Linked DNA regions of Homo sapiens. The protein of the gene in region 3 purifies or fractionates together with the protein of the main gene of each other region. This does not show direct contact. Each region holds a gene or a part of one and is shown on either strand. Other genes may lie near its edges. The genes, in order: KRT10, CAD and RICTOR.

Evidence for each region.
Region 1: the proteins of RICTOR (region 3) and KRT10 purify together in Homo sapiens (affinity purification with mass spectrometry; 2 studies listed by BioGRID and IntAct, with this or other methods). This does not show direct contact.
Region 2: the proteins of RICTOR (region 3) and CAD purify together in Homo sapiens (affinity purification with mass spectrometry; 2 studies listed by BioGRID and IntAct, with this or other methods). This does not show direct contact.

What each region holds. Positions count from the first base shown.
Region 1 is NC_000017.11:40,819,611-40,827,097, reverse strand, and holds the start of KRT10 (keratin, type I cytoskeletal 10), read left to right. Parts: upstream 1-4,483; 5' UTR 4,484-4,512; coding exon 4,513-5,139; intron 5,140-5,980; coding exon 5,981-6,063; intron 6,064-6,430; coding exon 6,431-6,587; intron 6,588-6,674; coding exon 6,675-6,836; intron 6,837-6,923; coding exon 6,924-7,049; intron 7,050-7,363; coding exon 7,364-7,487. UniProt on the Homo sapiens protein: Plays a role in the establishment of the epidermal barrier on plantar skin.
Region 2 is NC_000002.12:27,234,358-27,241,463, reverse strand, and holds part of CAD (multifunctional protein CAD), read right to left. Parts: intron 6,947-7,106; coding exon 6,779-6,946; intron 6,220-6,778; coding exon 6,037-6,219; intron 5,929-6,036; coding exon 5,824-5,928; intron 5,181-5,823; coding exon 4,941-5,180; intron 4,716-4,940; coding exon 4,634-4,715; intron 4,086-4,633; coding exon 3,919-4,085; intron 3,747-3,918; coding exon 3,582-3,746; intron 3,409-3,581; coding exon 3,277-3,408; intron 3,034-3,276; coding exon 2,832-3,033; intron 2,423-2,831; coding exon 2,232-2,422; intron 2,134-2,231; coding exon 1,993-2,133; intron 1,768-1,992; coding exon 1,666-1,767; intron 1,200-1,665; coding exon 1,103-1,199; intron 898-1,102; coding exon of another isoform or gene 847-897; intron 554-846; coding exon 509-553; intron 407-508; coding exon 237-406; intron 143-236; coding exon 68-142; intron 1-67. UniProt on the Homo sapiens protein: Multifunctional protein that encodes the first 3 enzymatic activities of the de novo pyrimidine pathway: carbamoylphosphate synthetase (CPSase; EC 6.3.5.5), aspartate transcarbamylase (ATCase; EC 2.1.3.2) and dihydroorotase (DHOase; EC 3.5.2.3).
Region 3 is NC_000005.10:39,071,353-39,078,978, forward strand, and holds the start of RICTOR (rapamycin-insensitive companion of mTOR), read right to left. Parts: upstream 3,048-7,626; 5' UTR 3,026-3,047; coding exon 2,977-3,025; intron 2,807-2,976; coding exon 2,759-2,806; intron 1-2,758. UniProt on the Homo sapiens protein: Component of the mechanistic target of rapamycin complex 2 (mTORC2), which transduces signals from growth factors to pathways involved in proliferation, cytoskeletal organization, lipogenesis and anabolic output.

The DNA.
Region 1 (7,487 bases), on a different chromosome or scaffold from region 3:
CAGATTTGTCCTTCTGCAACTACCTAAACTATGCATTATATCTCAATTATATGTATTATATCTCAATCAGAAAAAGAAACTTGCAAATAGAATTTTCAGCTAGAAACTTCAAAAGCGGATTTTACTTGAAGCAAAATAAGGAAGAAATAAAAAGGATCCAAATCCCAACAGTGAGACAAGTCAAACTGATAACAAACTTGAATCCACAACATGCTTCTAGAGCTCCGGCCAAATTAACCCCATGCGAATAGCAACTATATCCGTCTTAACCACGACTCAAAGTTCAGAAGCAATTAAAGAAGAAATTGATAAACTGGACAACATGAAAATAAAATACCATAAGCAAAGTCATCAATTCCAATATTGGGTATGCATCATGAATTGCCCCACCACTACTCAATTAAAATTGTCCTCTGGAAGGATGCCAATGGTTCCAAATTACTTTCCTCAATCCATCTTTTCATTGACCTCTCGGATGATCACCTCACCCACGTTCTCTTCTCCCTTGGCTTCACTGATCCTCTTTCCCCCTTTCCCTGGTCCTAGATGTCCTTCTTTTCAGGATTATTCTCTAGCTCTACTTCTTCTTCCCAGCCCCTAAAGTGACTCCAAAAGTTCAGAATTAGACCTTCTGTACATTTCTCTCTAAATTCCTTCCCTTAGGGATCCTAACTACCCCCAAAATCTGCTATTCTGAATCTCTCTCCTTAACAGCAGTCCCATAATTGCTTAAAGACATGTTTACATGAATATCCTGGTATTACCTCAAATTCACGTCTTAAACCAAAACTCATCCTCAATCCCGAACTTTACTTCAATATTCTTTCATTGTGCACTCACACCACACACACACACACACACACACACACACATTCACTAGACTGTTAGACAACCTCTCTGTAATTCCTCGGAACCCTGAACATTGCTCAAATATAGCCCAGATTACCCTATATTATAATCTCTGATTCGTGGGTATGTTTGTTTGCCTCTCCAAGTAGATTGTAAACTCCTTGAAGGGTAGGAGCTGTATCTTGGTCACCTATGCCTTCCCCAGGCCATATTGCAGGTGCTCAATAAAACCTGCTGAAGGTATGAATAAATTAACATATACGGATGATCTACTCCAGCCAAACTGGTCACTCAGTGTCTCCACTTGCTTGGCATTTTCACAGTCCTGACTTCCCAGAAGTCTTCTCTCTGCTGTTGCACACATGAAAAGTCCTACTCATCCTTACAGGACTCAGCTTAAATTTCAACTGCACCATGAAACTTTGTCAATTGGCCCCATTCCAACATGACCCCTTGCTCATTAGTCTTAAGAATGCCAGTCTGGTGTCATGAAAACTAGCACCTTTGTAACTGTATCTCTTGATTCAAAACCAGGCTGTGTGTCATCACACAGACACTGCTGATATATAAATAAACAAATACATACATAATCTGGCAAATTTCTAAAACTTTTTAAGGTTTAGGTTTTTTAGCTATTAAACGAGATAATAATACCTATCTTAGAGAACCTAGGGCAGGATTAAAGAAAAGTAAACCATCTAGATCATAGAGATATTCCGGAAATGTTAACTCCTTCCCCCTACACATCCAAGCCCCACCATCATTTTCCATTTATATAGCATACAGTGCTTAAACTGATGGTATATGTCATGTCTCCTCAATTAGACTGTAACTACTGGCAAGATCCATAAGGACGGGAGGTGTATCTCATTCATTTTTCTATATTTTAAATACCTACCAATGCACTTTACATAGAGACACAATAAAAATTGAGCACAATGAAAATACAGTTACAGTGGATTATAGCAATCAAGTGTAAATGGTGCCAAGACTAGAATCATAAATGTTCATCCAATTTAGCTGTAGAATTATTATGTGGCATCTCTTAATTTTACTCATGCCAAAGGCTGATTTCAACAAATGACAGTGTGAATAAAGACAAATCAATTTCTACAGTATACAAGTTAATAAGTAATCTTTGGTAATAACAGTAAAGGTAGCTTAAATTAAATGTTATAGTATTAGAAGGCCCTCCATACCTGTATTTGTTCTTATGTACTTTTATGCAAAGATTCCCTTTCATATATTCTTTGGTTTAATATGATTGTAACAGAGCTCTCTTCATACCACTTGTTAATTAACTGAAAGGAGACTGGGATTTTTATATTTTCCACTGGGGGGAGAAATTATAGGCTAATACTAAAACAAAATTGGTAATACTAAGATCCAAAACTTGTGCTAATTACAGGTAAAATCAATCAAAATATCTTTTTAATTAAAATGTTTCTTTCCAAAAAGATTTCATTAATATCAAGGTTTCAACATGTTCTCTGAAGTTATTGGAGTTTTTTCTTTTCCTATCCTGATTTATCATAGCCTTCTTTAACTGTAGGTTATCTTCATCAAGAATCAATTCCCATGGTTGGGTTTCAGTTTTTCTTTTAACTACTGCCCCATTTGCATGTGCTAACAAGTTGGAAGAGTTGCAATCTGCTGGGTAGTAACCTCCACTTTAACAATCAACATTTGATTAATGCTCCCAACCACACTCCCTTCCCTACAGAAACTATTTCTGTAGTTTTCATAAACCAAAATGTGCAGCAATAAACTTAATTTGAAAAAACAATTACTAAAGGTAGAGTGTGTGCCAAATCATTACCCTTTGAATATTTTCATGATTCTAAGTTCTTTTTGTTTTGCTCTTTTTCCCCATTTGGAGAAGTTTACGGTGAGAATTAGAGTCATTCATCTCCATTAGACCAAATCCACTGGAGCAGATAATATATATACACATTGGTAAAGTGGAAAAGAACCAAGGAGTTAAAAGACCAAGCTTCTAATTGCAGTTCAACCACCTGTTACATATCTTCAGGAAAAAATCACAACCTCTCAACTTCAACTTCCTCTTCTATAAATTAGAAATAACAATAACCACACCTGTAACCCCAGCACTTTGGGAGGCCAAGGCAGGCAGATCAAGAGGTCAGGAGATTGAGACCATCCTGGCTAACATGATGAAACCCTGTCTCTACCAAAAAGACAAAAAATTAGCCAGGTATGGTGGCACACACCTGTAGCCCCAGCTACTCGGGAGGCTGAGGCAGGAGAATGGCGTGAACCCGGGAGGTGGAGCTTGCAGTGAGCCGAGATGGCGCCACTGCACTCCAGCCTGGGCGACAGAGCAAGCCTCCGTCTAAAAAAAAAAAAAGAAAGAAAGAAAGAAAGAAAGAAAAGAAATAATAATAACCACCATTCCTATCTCAACAGCTTGTTCTAGAAATTTTTAAAGCACAGTATCACAAACAGCACTACATAATTGTAAAACATGTATGAATATATACATCCAAACAACAGCAATGTCATAGCCTATGGGTAGATATAATCTTATACAATGTACCAAAATCCCAATTTACTTCACTAGACAAACTGTTATACCAAATTCTGTACACAGTATATCCAAGAAAATGTGTTGTTTTTATTGAGAAACTGAACCTAGCTTGGGAACACATGTGCACAGTCTAGTTCATAATATTTGGTGCAAGTATCATTCTCTAATATAGATTTACATTTTTGCAAGCAAATTTTTACTTGCAATCATAACATATCCAAATTTTCCCTTTTTACTCAATCAGAACTTAGTGTAAAGTACTACAAGTTAGTTCTTCGGATTTCATGCTAAGAAAATAATGCAGATTTTCTGCATTATTATGGTCTTCACAGAAACCTTAACTATGATGAATTTAAAAGTGCAAAATAATCCAGGATAACTTTATGATTTCAGATTTTTTAATGTTAAAAATAATGCCATCATTAATTAGAAAATTCTAAAATCATTACTTCCACTTTCTTAGGCAAAATATCAATATACTCTCATTTGCCAAATAAATTAAAAGATCTCCTACAAACACAATCTCCTAAATTGTGGTTTTATGGCTTTAATGTTTTATGTGTGGCAACTATTGATGCTAGTTAAATTTTTAGAAACTTTTTCTTTTTGATTCCCTACAGTTGTCTACAAGAACCTTATTGTAGCATGATCCTGCCAGACTTTATGCTATTTGTTGCTCCAATTAAAACTGTTTAAAACATGAATTTGAAAAATCTTATTTTAACTATAATTTTGTAGCTGAAACTTTTTTTTCTAAACTTTGCAAACATTCTATGCAACCTGAATTAGTGCTGAGAAAAATGGATCTTAACGGTTGCTCAATGTTCTTCAACAGGTGAAAAGCATAATAAAACATGCTCATCTGAACTCCACCCATTTTCAATTTCAACATAGCAAACCTCCTGTTTATTCTTAGGGCAAATTCAAAATTGTACATATTAGGATTGGTTATTACTGAAGATAATTTATGCAATCATAAGCCAAAGATGCTAAGTTGGCAAAAAGAAAACAATGTAAGTAAGCAAACTCTAACACATGTGGACACACCCTCTCAGTATATAAAGGCTTGTCACTGTCCTTGGTAGCAGGCACTCCCTGGGCTAAACAGCATCACCATGTCTGTTCGATACAGCTCAAGCAAGCACTACTCTTCCTCCCGCAGTGGAGGAGGAGGAGGAGGAGGAGGATGTGGAGGAGGAGGAGGAGTGTCATCCCTAAGAATTTCTAGCAGCAAAGGCTCCCTTGGTGGAGGATTTAGCTCAGGGGGGTTCAGTGGTGGCTCTTTTAGCCGTGGGAGCTCTGGTGGGGGCTGCTTTGGGGGCTCATCAGGTGGCTATGGAGGATTAGGAGGTTTTGGTGGAGGTAGCTTTCGTGGAAGCTATGGAAGTAGCAGCTTTGGTGGGAGTTATGGAGGCATCTTTGGAGGGGGCAGTTTCGGAGGTGGCAGCTTTGGTGGGGGCAGCTTTGGTGGAGGCGGCTTTGGTGGAGGCGGCTTTGGAGGAGGCTTTGGTGGTGGATTTGGAGGAGATGGTGGCCTTCTCTCTGGAAATGAAAAAGTAACCATGCAGAATCTGAATGACCGCCTGGCTTCCTACTTGGACAAAGTTCGGGCTCTGGAAGAATCAAACTATGAGCTGGAAGGCAAAATCAAGGAGTGGTATGAAAAGCATGGCAACTCACATCAGGGGGAGCCTCGTGACTACAGCAAATACTACAAAACCATCGATGACCTTAAAAATCAGGTAAGAGGTATTTTTAAATCCAGCTTTAAGTATCTTGTCCATGTAATCCAGACAGATGAATCTTAAATTAAGCACAATGTGGCTGTTCACTATGCTTACCCATGTTACTTTCTTCCTTCAAAAATAACCCAGTCTCATCAAAGATAAACATCTGTGAAACTATGGTCATGGCAATCTTCATCCAGCAAGTGTGCTACTTGTCTTAAGAGGATGGGAGATTTACTAAGCACTTTTGAGGTTTTAATGAGCATACAATGAGTCCACAGTTAAAATATGCTAGGCTATTTACAAATGTAGAAACTGAAAAAAAAAATCATGATATGAATCAGAACAAAATGTTATTCAGACTGATAACAAGCCATATTCAGTACCAACATGGCAAGAAAAATAAATTTTCCAGTATGAAAATGGGACACTGCTTGCCTCTAAGGAATTTCTGAATTGTACCTATTGTGTACCAGTTCAGAGTGTATTTATTTATTAGTATTTATCATGAGTTAAACAAATGCAGGTGTGAGTCAGCCAAAGCATGGCTGAAATACATGGAAATCACATAGTCTAAAAGAGGAGGGCACACTTACAGGAATACATCTATATAATTCCAGTTAGTTTTCAGAAAGGAATAATTCGTGTACAGAAATACAAGACTGGAGAAATTCCAAGAGAACAAATAATTCAAAGTTAAGTATATGGGTAAGCCTGCAATATTTCATATTTAAAATAAAAAATTTTCCCAAGATTTTGTAAGAGAACAACATAAAAGTGCAGAGTGCATCTATGTCACTACAAAAGCCATATCTGCATCTGACCTCTTCTCAAATAACTGTGCCTCTCCCTCCAGATTCTCAACCTAACAACTGATAATGCCAACATCCTGCTTCAGATCGACAATGCCAGGCTGGCAGCTGATGACTTCAGGCTGAAGTAAGTTAAGTGATCGTTGTATAATACTATCACAACGAATACATCAGTGGTTTTTAACAATGACTTGGGATGCCCTCAATAACATTTACATTTTTCTGAATTCACCCAAAGTTAAATAGTATTGGAGTTATCTGAGAAATTTTCCATGTCAGTGTTACCTTTTTGGCAATATTAAAGGAAGAAAATGCATTTTAAAGTAACTGCTAAGGTTTTTTCCATTAAACCACTATTACTTCTAAGAGAACTGTACATGACAAATATTGCCATTACATGAGATCAACTATGTAGCTGCTTTTTAAATAGTCTCTGCCCAGATACATCTCCCCTATATAAGTTATAACCAGTATTGATATCATGCTTGTTTCAGGTATGAGAATGAGGTAGCTCTGCGCCAGAGCGTGGAGGCTGACATCAACGGCCTGCGTAGGGTGCTGGATGAGCTGACCCTGACCAAGGCTGACCTGGAGATGCAAATTGAGAGCCTGACTGAAGAGCTGGCCTATCTGAAGAAGAACCACGAGGAGGTGACACAAAAGTTATACTTTTCCCAGCCAAAAGAGAGTTCATTATGGTCCTCGTGTAGCCAATAAATCTTTCTGTTCCTCAAACAGGAAATGAAAGACCTTCGAAATGTGTCCACTGGTGATGTGAATGTGGAAATGAATGCTGCCCCGGGTGTTGATCTGACTCAACTTCTGAATAACATGAGAAGCCAATATGAACAACTTGCTGAACAAAACCGCAAAGATGCTGAAGCCTGGTTCAATGAAAAGGTAAAGTAATCTTCCTTATAGTGAAACTCATGGAGGTTTTATCATTTCAGAATTTCCTCACCCTTTTCCTTGTTTTTAATACTCTAGAGCAAGGAACTGACTACAGAAATTGATAATAACATTGAACAGATATCCAGCTATAAATCTGAGATTACTGAATTGAGACGTAATGTACAAGCTCTGGAGATAGAACTACAGTCCCAACTGGCCTTGGTATGTTAACTCTCATGAAATGACTTCAACTTTATCATACAAAGTTTCATGCTCACCTAAGAATATGCAATGCAACAAAAAAATGCAGAGTTGGAGGTAAGAAAGAGAAAACAAAGTGAAGCTCATGTTAATGGAGGAAAAGTACTACTAGTGTTGATCTAAAAGTGCTGAAACTGAAATGGTGCCATTAAACATACAACAAATTCTGTTCATTTTCTTATTCTTCTATATAATGCCTTACTAAATAATCAAATAAGCGTCACCATACTCAACTGAACAAGGAAGTCACTAAGCCACAAAAAAATCCGTTTCAGAAACAATCCCTGGAAGCCTCCTTGGCAGAAACAGAAGGTCGCTACTGTGTGCAGCTCTCACAGATTCAGGCCCAGATATCCGCTCTGGAAGAACAGTTGCAACAGATTCGAGCTGAAACCGAGT
Region 2 (7,106 bases), on a different chromosome or scaffold from region 3:
GGCCCTGCGCTGATGCGGCCCAAGGGCAGGCGATGGCCTGGACCCTACCCCCGGCCCTGATCCTGACCTTCAGGATGTCGAGGCTCCGCTCCTTCTGCACCATCATACGCAGTGTGTGTGCCACATTGAACAGGTGAGACATCTAAGAAAGAGCCCAAGTTAGCTAGAAAGGTCCTAGCCCCAGCTTTCCAAATCCTCAAAGCTCTGGGTGGTCCCATCCTCCCTGCCCCAGGCACCTGATCCTTGGTGAACTGCTGGACGGACAGGATATGTTGGCCCACTAATGAGTGCAGCAGGGGTGAGGTCTGGGGGTGCAGCAAGCCAGGGGTCCCCAGGTTCTGGGGAGATGCCTGTCTCGGTACTGGTGGTGGAGGGTAGCAGGTGCCATCAGGGGTTCCCATCAGCTCTGCAGTGAGGGATGGGGCAGAAAAGGCTGGTCAGAGGGTTCCTCCTACCAAGGCCAGATCAGAGGTCCCCGAGGTGAGTGTGTGTCAGGGTGGAGTCTCACCTGGCTCGGCTACCTTCCGAGAGGACTTCTCCTTTGGCTCCTCAGCTGCAAACAGGACAAGAGGACAGATATACATTTATGGCTGAGGTTTGGAAAGAAACCCCATATTCCCAGGAACTCTGAATCACAGTGTATATGTTAAACCAATTCACAACACAGTAATATAGCAGGTTAGGGGAGGGCAGGGGACTGCAGCAGCTCTGGGGACAGACAGGTGGCTTCCCATGGGGCTGTGTTGTATGGGAGCAGTGGTGCCCTCCCGGGGCTCTCCCAGTTGGCAAAGGCATCCTAGGCAAGAGGAACGGCCAGACTCACACCAACCAACAACCTGGATTTACCCCACGCTCTGCTGCCCCGTGGGATCCCAGCTCCTGGGCGGAGGAACACAGCTGCCCACAACAAAAAAGGGCATGTGAGAAGCTGTGAGATGTCTACTCACACCGGGGAGACTTGTTTAGGCAAAGGATGGCACGGCAGATCAGACGAGGATAAAGGGATGGAGAGGAGGACATGTAAGTAGAGAAAGGCGAGGCACTGGGAAGAAGTGGATCCTGTCCCTACACAGTCTCTGAGTCACAGGAACCCCACTCTTACCTGGCAAACCTGGGTCGGAGGCTCGATGGATTCGGGGCGGCAGATGGAAGCGGCCATCAGGAAGCCCTGGGATGCCACGGCGGGGTCTTTCAGGTGTCTGGAGGGATAACGTTGGCCCAGAGTTGTTTTTTTTTTTTTCTTTTGAGACGGAGTCTCGTTCTGTCGCTCAGGCTGGAGTGCAGTGGCGTGACCTTCTGGGTTCAAGCAATTCTCCTGCCTCAGCCTCCCAAGTAGCTGGGATTACAGATGTGCACCACCACGCCTGGCTAATTTTTTTATTTTTAGTAGAGATGGGGTTTCACCATGTTGGCTAGGCTGGTCTTAAACTCCTGACCTCAGATGATCCGCCTGCCTTGGCCTCCCAAAGTGCTGGGATTACAAGTGTGAGCCACCACATCTGGCCTGGCCCAGCATTTTAAAAAAATAATTGACCCAACCCCACTTCAAATTCAGTCCCTCAAGAAAACCCCAATTGTTCCTGAACCACCAATGAAAATGTTCAAGCTGTTCATCCTGCCCTGAGACTAACACCTCCCAGCCCCCTAGCCCAGTAGTGTGGATACCGTGGTCATCTCACTAGTGGCAGGGGCTGAGGGTGGGAGCTGAGGAACAGCCCCCTGTGGCCACTTCCGTACATCCTGTCCATAGCCCGGGGGTACCAGAACCTGCAGGCAGAAGGCAGGGCACTCAGGAGGGAGCAGAGAGAACTCAGGTCCTAAAGGGGTAGATGTCAGCAAGGACAAAAAGCACCTTGGGGGAGCTGTGCCCCCAACCCCTGGTCCAGGGCAGTGGTGCACATAGTGGGACAGTGTAGATGTGCTGGGAAGGGAAGAAATGAACGTGGTGCAGAAGAGGGCACTACTGAGATCAGGCAGGGGCTACTTGCGTACCTGCCCATCGATATAGGCAACCTCCCCTCGCAGGACCACACGGCGGACGGTGCCCTTCACTTTCTGCCCTTCAAAAGGTGTCCAGTGGGCCTTGGAGAAGGGCATGTGGCTGGGAATTGTCCACTCATGCTCCAGATCCACCTGCCCAGAGGACATGGGTTATGCTAGGGAAAGGATCCCCAGAGAACATATCCTAGGGCTGGAGAGCCCCCCTCCTGCTCTGGGCCTCATCCCCACACCTCCACATAGGTGTCCTCCTGCGGGGGCAGGTGAAAGATGCGCCGAGGATTGTGGTGCAATCGCTGCAGCAGGTCGTCCAGGCTGAGCCGGCCCTCGCTTACAGCCGTCAGGAGTAGTGGCAGCATGGTCTCTAACCCTGGGAACCCAGGTGGGGGCCTGGACCCACACTTCTCCTCCAAGGTATGGGGAGCTGGGAGAAAGAAAGCCATTACCCTCAGGACCAATCACCTCCATGTCTAGGAAGTCACTCACACCCCAGGACTGCACTTCCAACAACCTCCTTATGCTCACTACCACTCCCAATGCTCATTTTTTCTGGGAACTAGAAACAAGGGCAACAGGACTGCTGCCATCTTCTGGAGCCCACACTTTTACCCATGTATTCTTTCACTTGCAGTTCTACTCACTGGCTCATTCATTCTTTCAACAAGTATTTATCAGGCACCTATCACAGACCAGGTACCCTAGAGGCTAGGGTCCCATACGGATCAAGACCCTGTCCTAGTAGAGTCCTGAGGCCTGGCCTGCTTCCCATTTTCTTGCTAGGGCTGTCCCACAAGCCCCACTGGGCAGAGGAGGTACATGCTGGATTCTCTCACCATGGTCTGAGGCAAAGCAGTCGATGACAGCCATGTTCTCCCACAGGGCTTCCACATCCTGGCGGGAGCCAAGCTCAGGCCGGACCTCCCCCTTCCCAGGCCCCAGGCGCTCCAGGTCATCATGGCTTAGGAACAGGTGGTGGGGAGCCACCTCGCAGGTCACTGGCAAGCCCCGTGCCTTTGCAGCTTTAATTAGCAGGATCTGGGGAACAATGGGAAGATCCAGAAGAGGCACCACCCATATGCCTTGCCCTACACAAAGTCCCAATGGCCAACATCCCTGCTCAAAAAATGATGATGTAGACCTGCAAGGGTGCTGGCTCGAGACCCTCCTCCTGCTGTCTCCAGACTCTCCTCCTGCTGTCTCCTGCCCCTAAGGACTACCCTGACCTTTGGTGTTACTGGGAAAGCAACAGGGACAGCAGGATCTCAGGTGTACTCTTACCTCCTCCTTCCGTGCCACGTGACATATGTGCACTGAGCGCTGAGTGAGCTGAGCCACCATGAGGACAGCAGCCACGGTTTGCTGCTCTGCGTGAGCCACAATGGGGAGGTGGGAGGGCCATGTCTCGAAATGCTGGGAGCAGAAAGAACTGATGAAGGAGTGTGCAGAATCTCTGACTGTGCTCATCAGAGCCCAGAGTCCCCAGGAGCTCCCCTGAATCCTCACTGCTACCAGCCCACTTAGGCAGGGGCCCACAAGCCAGGAGACACTGGGTGGTGGCCTCCTGCCACATGCACACTCCCTACCTCCATCCACTGGACCACGCTGTCCAGCCGCAGCTCAGAGAAGGTCTCATTGAGGTAAAGCTTCAGCCCGGCTGCAGACCCGGCCACGGTGCCCAAGGTTCCTGCATTTTCAGACGAGGCCCCAAGGAATAGCGCAAAGTCGCACCGGGCGCCAGCCTCTGCCAGCTGGAGAGGATACACAGAGGTAAGGCTCACTGGCACCCATGCCCACACAGGCTAGCCTGGCACCAGTGGCCTGGGCCCATAGGGCGGGGCAGAAGGAAAAGGGCTCAGGGAAGCAAGGGTGGCTGGTAGGGGCATATGGGTCTCCAATACCAGGAAGAGTGCAGTGGCTCACCTTCTGGGCCAGGGCCAGAGCAGGGGCGTCAATGATGGGGGGCCGGGTATTAGGCATGGCACACACCATGGTGATACCCCCAGCCAGGGCAGCGGCTGTGCCTGAAGCAAAGTCCTCCTTATGTGTCCCACCTGGTTCCCGCAGGTGCACATGGACATCAATCAATCCTGGGAGAAAATGGAAGCAGCAAGATTACAGGAAGATTCAGAAATAGGAAGGGTGAGCTGGACATGGTGGCTCACGCCTGTAATCCTAGCACTTTGGGAGGCCGAGGTGGGCAGATCACCTGAGATCAGGAGTTCGAGACCAACCTGACCAACATGGTGAAACCCCGTCTCTACTAAAAACACAAAAATTAGCCTGGTGTGGTAGCACACACCTGTAATCCCAGCTACTTGGGAGGCTGAGGCAGGAAAATCGCTTGAACCTGGGAGGCGGAGGTTGCAGTGAGCCGATATCACACACCACTGCACTCCAACCTGGGCGATGGAGTAAGACTCTGTCTCAAAAAAAAAAAAAAAAAAAAAATTCCTCAGACAAGGCCACTGTGGACACTGTGGATTAAGGAATGAAAGAGTGAGAAACATTCTGGGGTCTTCACAGTCTGTGCAGTCCAGGACAAAGAGTGGGCCCCCCAGCCATCCTTCACCACACTGCAGGTCTCTATGCCAGGGGCTGCCAGTGTTCAGAAGCCAAGTTCTCCCCAAAGACTTACCCGGCAGTCGCACAAGCTTTTGGGAGGTCATACAGTCAACATGCACCTTCAAAGGAGGGGCTGGCCCGATCTGGCCTAGGGCCTGCAAGTGGAAAGCAGTCAGCTTTAAGGGAAGGGTGATCCTGGGAGTTGTAGGGAGAGATGTGGTTTTCCCATAAACCAGGCTCTGCACACTCTATACCCACCATCTCTCCCTCTGTAGCCACAAAGCTTTATTACTAGCATGGCTGTTCCATACTCACTCCTCCCTCTTTCTTCTTCCCATCAACACTGGCAGTCTCCCTCCCAGCACATGGGTCTCAGTTACCTCCACAAAGAGTTTGGTGCACTTGATATCGATGATTAGGGGCACGGAGAAGTCAGCGGCCAAGCGTCGGGTGCGGTAGCCCTTGGTGACAAAGGAAGAGAGACGCCGGCCCCCAGCTCCACGCATTGACAGGTTAATCACCAGCTCAAAGTTTTTCTCAGCTAGCTGCTCCAGGATGCTCCGCTGTGGTGGGCACTCACCATCCACAGCCTCCTCAAAGTGCCAGTCCACAGCTGTTACCTGCCAACCCGGAGTCAAGGTCAGGGCCAAGCTGTCTGGCAGCGGTCAGGAAGGCTAGCCTTAAGGGAGAGGAGCTGGCCCAGGAGCCCATGATGAGGAGACTGAGGACCCATAGGGTGGGCACTGAGGGCTGCCTCTATTTGATACTGGCAAAGTGTATTTCTTGGCAGGAAAGATATCTACACTAAGTAAGATGGGTTACCAAGGACTAGGTGCAGTATGAGCTCACACACATGTACACAGAGAAAATCCTGGAAGGAAAAATATCAGAACAGTGGTACAGAGATTTTAAGAGACTTTTCTCTTTGCTTCCTGTGTATTCTGCTTTCTGCATGGAATATAGCTTACTAGTATAATGGTAATAATAAAAGCAGGGGAATAGGAGATAATTCTTTGTTTTTTTTTTTTTTGAGACAGCATCTCACTGTTTCCCAAGCTGGAGTGCAGTGGTGCACTCACTGCACACTCGCAGCTCACTGCAGCCTCTACCTCCTGGGCTCAAGAGATTCTCCTGCCTTAGCCTCCTGAGTATCTGGGACTACAGGTATATGCCACCGTGCCCAGCCCAGATAATTCTTTGGTGCAGTATTTTCACCCCCTTGGGGAAGGGCAGCAGTGGGGTAGGTTGCCAGAGTTCCTGCACCTTGACGCCATGCTCAGTGTAGAAGTCAGCTGTGCCGAGACTGGCATAGAGGCTGTAGCCCAGGCTCTCCAGTAGCCGCACAGTTGGGAGCAGCTCGCTTTTGTTCTGAAACCAAACAGAAGGATGAAATTGTTTTCTTCCTGTCTTCCATTTCAAGGTCAGCCCTGGCCCAGGGAGCCACGGCCCTCGGGAAGCCCTCCTGGATTCTGATACCTTATAGCTGCCAATGGTCAGCAGGATATTCTTCTTGGGGATCTTAAAGCCAGTGCTTAGCATGGCCTTGAGGTATGCCTCACAGCGGCTCTCCCCAAAGCCGGCCACCTCCCCAGTACTGGTCATTTCCACACCCAACACCACGTCAGCACCCGCCAAGCGGGAGAAGGAGAACTGAGGCACCTAAAGGGGCGGGAGGGAAGAGAGAGGGCCAAGGTGTGAGAGGACCTCCTCCCTCACCAGCAGAGACGGACACAGTACCCTGTGCTTGATCCCATCTGAATGGCAGGGTCAGCCTGCCCTCTCTGTGTGCCCTCCTGCTTTCCAAACGTACTTGGGGTCATCCCTCAGCTTCTGCTTAGGATGTGCCCTTGCAAATAAAAAACCTTAACCATCCTTCAAAACTCAATTCAAATAGCACCCCTTCGCTCAAGCCTTCCCAGATCACCCCTTTTGGAAGCAGCACCTCCTGTCTCTTGAACTCCTGCAGCATTCTGTTTACAGGTCGAATATGTAGTTTTACCACGGACTGTTCTATACCAAAGCTTTTTTGGGGATCCAACTTCTCTTCCCTCCCATTACCATAAAGTAAGCTCTTAAGGGACAATGACCACCTCATTACCCCCACGATCCGGCAATGCCTTGCAGTCAGTGCCTGGTTTACATACTGACAACTCTGTGTGGTGAGTGAACTCTCTCCCGCTATTTTTCTGCTAACCCCAAGGGTTTCGATATTCCTTACCTTTACTCCCACGACTCCAGAACCAGTCATTAGCCCCACAGGTTCCACTTCTTCCCCCATGATGACCCGCGTGGCCAAGGCTACTAGGTCCACACCCAGTGTCTTGGAAACGAAGGGGAAGGAGCGAGAGACACGTACGTTGCATTCAATAACTTTCAGCTGGTCATCCTGGGGCAGAGAAGACTGGTCAGGCCTTCTGCAGGTTGGCCTTGCTGACACTATCTATAGGCCTAGACTCTTCCTCTCCGTCCTCAGCTCTGGGGGATCAGACTGAGCAGGGTTCAGGGTCACTGACTGTCATAAGCCCCAACACCATGAGCTCTAGCTA
Region 3 (7,626 bases):
AAAAAGAAGCTCGAATACCATAATTCCTTATTAACAAGTTTATAATATTCAAAACAACCGTTTAAAGTATTTTTAATGTGAGTTTTAAAACTGTGATTTCACAATGTAGGAAGGCAACTAATGTTAAATATCACTTACAAAGTATCCGGTCTTATGCCAAGTACTTTAATTAAGAACTAGCTCATTTACTTTTCACATTCTTAACCCTTTGAAGTTATCTCTTATTTTAGAAATGAAGAAATCAGGGGTAAAGCAAGGTCAAATAACTTGCCCCAAATCACCCAACTATTAAATCTCACAGCTGAGGTTACAATCCAGAATGATTTGACTTTATAGTCAACTCTCTTTTCACTACACATTGATGGATCCTTTAGGGATTACAATGACCATGTCCTCTATTTTATAATGAGCTTTATTAGGTAACTACACAATGAATCTCTCAAAGATTAAATTTAAAAAATAAGAATAAAAGCAAACACTGCCTTGGCATTAAACAAAAAAATTTTTGGTTGCCCAAACTTTATCTTTTTACATACTGTAATCTAATCCACAAACAGCTGCCCTTCAGCTGCAACCCAAACTGCCTCACAGTTCTCAAATTATTACTAAACTTTAATTCCTCATGAATTTTCTTCAAGCCTTCTTTGAACAATGAAATGTCTGTCACAACAGCAACTTTTTAAAACAATAGTATCACTATAAAATGACTGATTCAGATTAATTCCAAACTTCCTTATGATTTAGAAATACAGATCTCAAACAATCCCTCACTCTTTATTTTTGCAATCAGTTTTAAATGGCTGTGTATACTTTATTCCAAACTGAAGTACATTTTGTCAGGGCAAGCCGAAAACAGCATTTTCTGCACTATCTATATTAACCTGGAAATACCTATGGACATAGGTGCTTACTAAATTCTCAGTTAATATGGCATTTTAAATAGTAAACAGTTACCTGTGTGCCTCAGTAAAACTGGAGTAAGCCAAAATTATCAAATCAGATGTGTACCTAAGCTCTTCCACAACTCAACATTTTTGACACCAAGCAGAGAAACCACTATATATAGGAGCTCGACGAACTCAATTTAAAATACAACTATATATTTCCAGCACCACATCTGAGCAGGTTTTTAATGCACAAGTTAAACTCAAGTTTATTAAGGGCTCCCTTCACCTTCATCTAAAACACATATGCCTGTATATAAATTAAATCACTCACTAATTACATCTTTTACAGACCTGAAATTGTAGAAGTTATCCTTGTTAGGAAGTTTTCTAGTGAATCTATTTTATATAGATTTTTCACATGTGTGTTATAGTCAAGTTTCCAAACAGTTGCACAGAAGTCAAAAGCTTTACATCTTTCTATACTAATTCTCAAAACCGATCTGCTGAAAAAAATGGTGGAAATTAGTGCATTGATAATCTAATTAGTAGCCATTTTCAGGATTTAAGCTCTACTATATTGTATTATATTTTAGAAACTGTCTTGTAAAAGGACCTAGTTCACCCAAAACTAAGTCCCTGAACTTTCAGAATAAAATATTAAGTTATAAAAATGTACTCTTGTAGCTAAGTGAAAGCTGACCATTCAGTTTATAAAACAGTAATCTTACATCGTGATAAGCAAAATAAAACAAATTAGAAAATGCACTATGCTTTCACTCTAGCCGTTGTCAACAAGGAGCCCAGCTTTAACAAATTACTGTAGATAACAGTCATTACGTCAGGTACGACATAGGGTAAAAAACTGATCTCATACAGAATGTCTACAACAAGTTTTTTTGTTTACTTCCTAAGGTGTTTTATAGACCTCAGAAACTGATTCTGTACAGCTGAACCGGGTTACACTCCAAGCTACAGCCCGTGTGAAATATGACTTCGTCGGAATCAGTAGGCTCAATCCTGTTTACCGTGGAAGAGAAAAGAATCTTGTACGTAACTACTAAATCTTCAACGAGATAATGTCGAATAAACTCTAGTACTGTAAGTGATAGAGGAAACACTGGCTAGTAACGGGATTAGGTCATTAAAAATATCACCCGAGTTTCCCCAGTTCGGAAGGTGTAAACAAACCCATCTCCACTGCAGAAGGTAAACAATGAACCTGCAGCAGGGTGAGGGGGCGGTCTTTAGCCAACTACAGTCCCAGCGGCCCGGGAAAGGGAAGCAGAAGGGAAACAGCATAAACCAGACATTTAGCAGTAATGACCAGTTCTAGGTTTCACTACCAAGTTATCAATGCTGCGGGTCCCCACAGGACGGTGGGCAAAGGGGAAAGCAGTCACGCAGTCGGCAAGCACCGAGCAGGTCCGGCTTCTGCTCCGGGGACGGGGAGGGCAGGATGTGGTCGCTCTTCCCTCAAACATCCTCCTGCAACCTAAATAACAGCCTCTACCTCCCTCCAGCTGCCCCTAGCTTGGGCTGCCGGACTCCGGGATAGGTGCAAACCACTCTGCCGGAGCTCGAGCCCAGAGGGTCGCCGGGTCTGCCGAGTTCCACTCGGGGCTCCCCCGCACCCGCAGCAGCCCGAGGCCCGGAGAAGGGCTCGGGCGAGGGAAGCGGGCGCTGGGTAGGGGGATGGGTCCGGCGAGGCGGCCCCGGGCTCGGTTCCCGCGGGCCGGCAGGCGGGGCTCCGGCTCTGGCCCCCGCACCCCGCCGGTCCCGTGCGGGGCCCGCCCCTGCCTCTGGCCCCCAGCCCCGGACCCGGCTCCTCCCCAGCAGCGCGCCCTCGCGGCGCCCGCGGCGCCCCGCGTTACCTCGGGTCAGATCCAGCGGGACGTTCTCCTCGCCGCTGTCATTCCGCCCTGCGCGAAACAGACACACAGCCCCAATTAGGATTGGCTCGCAGGCCAGCTGCGGCTGCCCTGGCTCCGGCCAGCGCCCCGGCTCGCTCCCCAACCCAGGGCCAGGGGAAGGCAAGTGCCAGGGGTGGCGGGCGCCGGGCGGTGGGGAGTGAGGGTTGCAGCGGGCTTACCTCGTACTCGGAGGTTCTTCAGAGAGCGGCCGCGGCCGATCGCCGCCATATTGACGGGTTTCAGTCACAACACCGGAAACCTCGCCCAATCGCGCGAGAACCCCTTCCCCTCCCCGCGCGCCGCGCCCGCCCCCCGCGGCACCTCCCCCGCCCCCTCGGCGGCGACGGCGGCGGGTGGTGCAGGCTCGGCCCCAGCGCTGAGGGAGCACTGAGCCGACCCAAGGTCTGCAAGGAGTTCGCGGCACCCGCCCGCCCACGCCGGACCCGGAGGGCACGTCCGCCGGGAGGGGCAGTTCCCACGAGGAAAGTCCCATTGATGCGAGTTGGCAGTGTAGAGGATGCTCCCCTCCGGCCGCCGCGGAAGCCGTCGTCCAAATGCAGGCGAGCGGGGAGGAGGAGGCCGGGATGCGGCCGGCGGGCCACCTGCTCTCGCCGGCCTGCCAGTCTCCTGCTTGCTCTGAAGCCCTGCCATAGACGGCCCCGCTCCCCCGTGTATCCACTGAAACATTTTTTTATAAAAACGCTGCGCACAGTTTTAGACTCCTTTCCTGGAATCGCTTTGCTCCAACTAAGTTAACACGTAACAAAGTTTGTTTTCCAGCCTCGCCCTTGATCTTCAGAATGCCCCTCTCGGCTAGGAGGGCTTCTCCAAGTGGAAGTGGTTAGGCAGTTTTGTTTTTGGCCGCCAGGCGTAGGACGCGAGAAGGGGGTGCAGCGGCCGGGGACCAGGGCGGCGGTCCCCGCGGTGGGATCGCGCCAGCGCCGGGAGGCCGGGGAGAGGGTGTTCTCTGCCGGGAGCCGAGGCGAGGCTGCTGGGTACTGTGTCCGGCTTTTATGGCTCTGCAGCTCCTAGGATCGTGGCTCATGCAGGTGTTGTGGATTAATCTATTTTATGCATAAGCCTATTAACATTAGGGATTTTAATTCTAGAAACTGCTTAGTTAATACGTATGTGTACACACACACACACACACACACACACACACACACACACACACACACACACACACACACACACACACACCTGGCCACTGACCCAGCAGCTTTCTCTTGAACTACATTTACTTTAAAGAGAGGAGCGATTTGTCCTCTCCAGTTCCTCAGCTCATCTTTCTATTCCATGAGACTGAAAGTTAATTAAAAGTGGAGATCTAGCCTTAACCAGTTCTGTTTTCCCAGCTCCCAGTTAATGCAATATCTGGCACAAATAAGTATTCAATAAATATCTGTTGGATGAGTAAGTGCCCTGGATTTCTAATTTATTCCAATTCTCTGCTTACTTTAAAAAAGAAAAAAAAAGCAATATTGGGGATATTTGTTGAAGTTGTTAATAAGAGTGAACATTTGGAAACACTTAAATGACCAAAGGTAGGGATTATGTAAATTATGTCAACGATTAAAAGTGAAGAGGTAGACTTAGTAATAGGAAATAATGTTCATGATATTAAATCAAGCAAAATATTACAAATTTCCTGTTTTATAATAAAAGTTTAAATATGTACGAAATTAAAAATATACATTATAAAATATTTTATATGTACATGTATGTTGAAAAAAGTCTGAAAATATACATGAAAATGTTAGCTGATTTTCTCCCCTCATTTGTGGAATTACACGTGCACTTTTTTGTTCTTGTTTGCTTGTCTCTACTTTTTAAATATCCTATAGTTAATATATGTCATTTGTAAAATAAGTGGTAAGAAGAAAAATAAAAGGAACATAAAGTAGCATCATCTGGAAAATAAAATAGGAACACTGCTTCCTTAGAATATTGCCAATTATCTATATATTCCAGTTCTTTTTTTTTTTTTAAACCAAGTCTACAATCAGATATCTGCGGCTGATACTGCACTTAGATTTAAGGATGTAACACAATTACAGTACTTTAAAGAAATGTCTTCTGGCATTACCAGTAGTAGTTTTAATGTCAACAAGCGTGCTCCCTCCGTTATAGCTTTAAAAATCTTGGTGCAATTTATTTATTCTAGTTACTGCCTAAAACAAAAATCACAAAACTTGAGGTCTGGCAGAGGGTTGGATTTCAACCCTCCATGTATCACCACATTTCACCCTTAAAGAAAAGTAGAGATCTATCAGTAGAAATTATACCAGATTCTTACAGTTGTTCTGATTTTCAACAAATCTTTTATCATATTATAAAATCCCTCTATATTCTACATTAACTCCTTCCTAATACAATTTAACTTCATTTTCTCTCGGTGTTTTATGAAAGTTGAGTACAACTAATCTACTTTTAAGTTACTTGAGGTACATAAGTGCCTAAATCCAGTAGTATTTTAATCATTATAACTGTATGCTATTAAAGACAATTATTCAATTACTCTATTTCTTGCAGGAGAAAAAATTACATTCAATCTTTCATCGAAACTAGTTTTTTCTCTGTTACTATTTCAGTCGTTTGAGTGGTTAGGTTCTCCATATTTGCTCTTAGAGTGAATGGCAGGTCTGGTGAAAAGGAACAAGTTATTAGTGTTTGCAAGTGACACTCAACTAGGAAGCAGAAGTTTAGATAAATTTTAGTAAGGAATACATTTTATAATGTGTTTGCTTTTTAAACAGTAGCACTACTTTATTGTTTATAGTCAGATTGATACTTGTTAAAACCCCTAAATTTTCTTCTTTGATACTTGCCAATTGCTAGCTATTCCTCCTTTTGAAACTTCTTTTTCTTCCTTGCATCTTTTAGCCGACCCATATGACTTACTCATTTTGTTTACTTCTTACTACTTCTCCAATTTTTATTTTGATTCTAATCTGGTCATTGAGAATGTGACTTCCTCTTCTTAGTTTTCGTTTCCCAGCTAGGTTTCATTTGCTGTGTCAGTGACTGTTTTTTTTTTTCTGGTAGTATTAGTCATTGATAAAAAATGTTCTATAAGAAGATCGAGTCCAGGACCATACCTTTGGAAGATAACTGCTTAATTCTGAGGATACAATTACTCCATTCATAGTCACTCCCTTGGTTCTATTCTCTACCCTCCTGCATGCAGTTAATAATTCTAGTATATAACTAGAATTCTAGTAATAATTCTAGTATGTAAACCATATTTTATCGGTTTGGGATACAGTTGTAATACTGAACAGAAACAAAAGCCTTATCAAAATCTTAGTTCCCTTTAATCTCTCTGCCTTGGTACATAGGCCATTTGAAGATAAAGCAAGTAAAAAGCCACAAAATTTGGTCAGACTATTTCTTGGTAACTTCATAGTTAAACCGCACATTTGAGACATCTAAAGGCCATTTACACGACAAGCAATGAATTAAATTTAACAAATGTTACAATCCCATCCAGTGTTAATTATGTCTTGGTCACAGCAGAACAGAGCCCCTGAGTATTGTGTCTTTAAATTTTAATCTCTGTCCCAAAATCTCATATAAATTTCCTTTTAAATAATTCTTTAAAGAGACTCTCTATGACTAACAGTTTTAAATGAAGAATAAACCTATGTTTATGGAAGATGAAGATATGTTAAAAAATGAAATCTAGAAGGGTATGCAGTAAAATTTCAACAGTTATTATCTACAGATGGTAGAATTTGGAGTGATTTTTCTCTCCCGTTTTCTCATTTTACTTGTTCCCAAACAAATTTTTACTCATGAATTTTTTTAGGAAAACTATTTTAGAAAAATTTTGTTGGCTATTCTAAACCAAAATTATAAACAGTTGATTATAATAATGACTTACTTAACAGGTCATTATAAACAATCAAAATTATTTGTGCATCTGTTCATTAAAAAAAGAACTTTTGCACATACACTGCAATACATATATATTCACTTTTTAAATTAAATTAGAACTTAAAACATAAACACAAAATAAAAATGGTTAAAAGTAATTTTTAATGTTATTTTACTAATGACACGAATACAAAGCAATGGGGCTGAATATACTTCATTATTCTCGACATTTCTTGTTATATACTTTGTGATACTGAAATTTAAAAGTCTAGTTCTAAGAAGAGTTTATGTGGGTATAGGGTTTTAATAGCTGAGACCTCACAAAATGCAAAGTTAAAAATGGAAGAACTACTGTATTGGCCGCATTTCTAAACCATAAAACTCATTTTCCCATTTCGTCCACCCAGTGATACAAAAGCTTTTTGAAATGTAATTTGGCTAACAAATATCCATCTTCCCTAATGTCAATCAGTTTTCCTATCAAACTAGTAATTTGGCTAACAAATATTCATCTTGCCTAATGTCAATCAGTTTTCCTATCAAACTAGAAGACATAACATTTAGAAATTTTCAGCAAAATGGTTGCAAAACCATTTATCTGAAAGATTTTGAAGCAGATTGGGAAACTCTGTTCCCATGATTTTCAAGTGTGCAGATATGAAAATTTATATATGTGACACATTTATATTTTAAGTTTTTTCAGAAAAAAATCACAAAACTGAAACACTTTCAAATATCTGTTTTCTAAATGCTCTCATCCTAGCACAGGTTTTTTGGAAGTATTAAATTTCTTAGTTATTGTTATCACATCTACCTTGAAGGGAAATTTTTTTTTAATTTTTTTTAAAAAATCTGATAGGTAACATGCTACTCGAAGCCACCAGTCATCATGAAAAAAAAGCTTGCCACTAAATAAATAGTAAACACCTGTATAATACAAAAGATTTTCT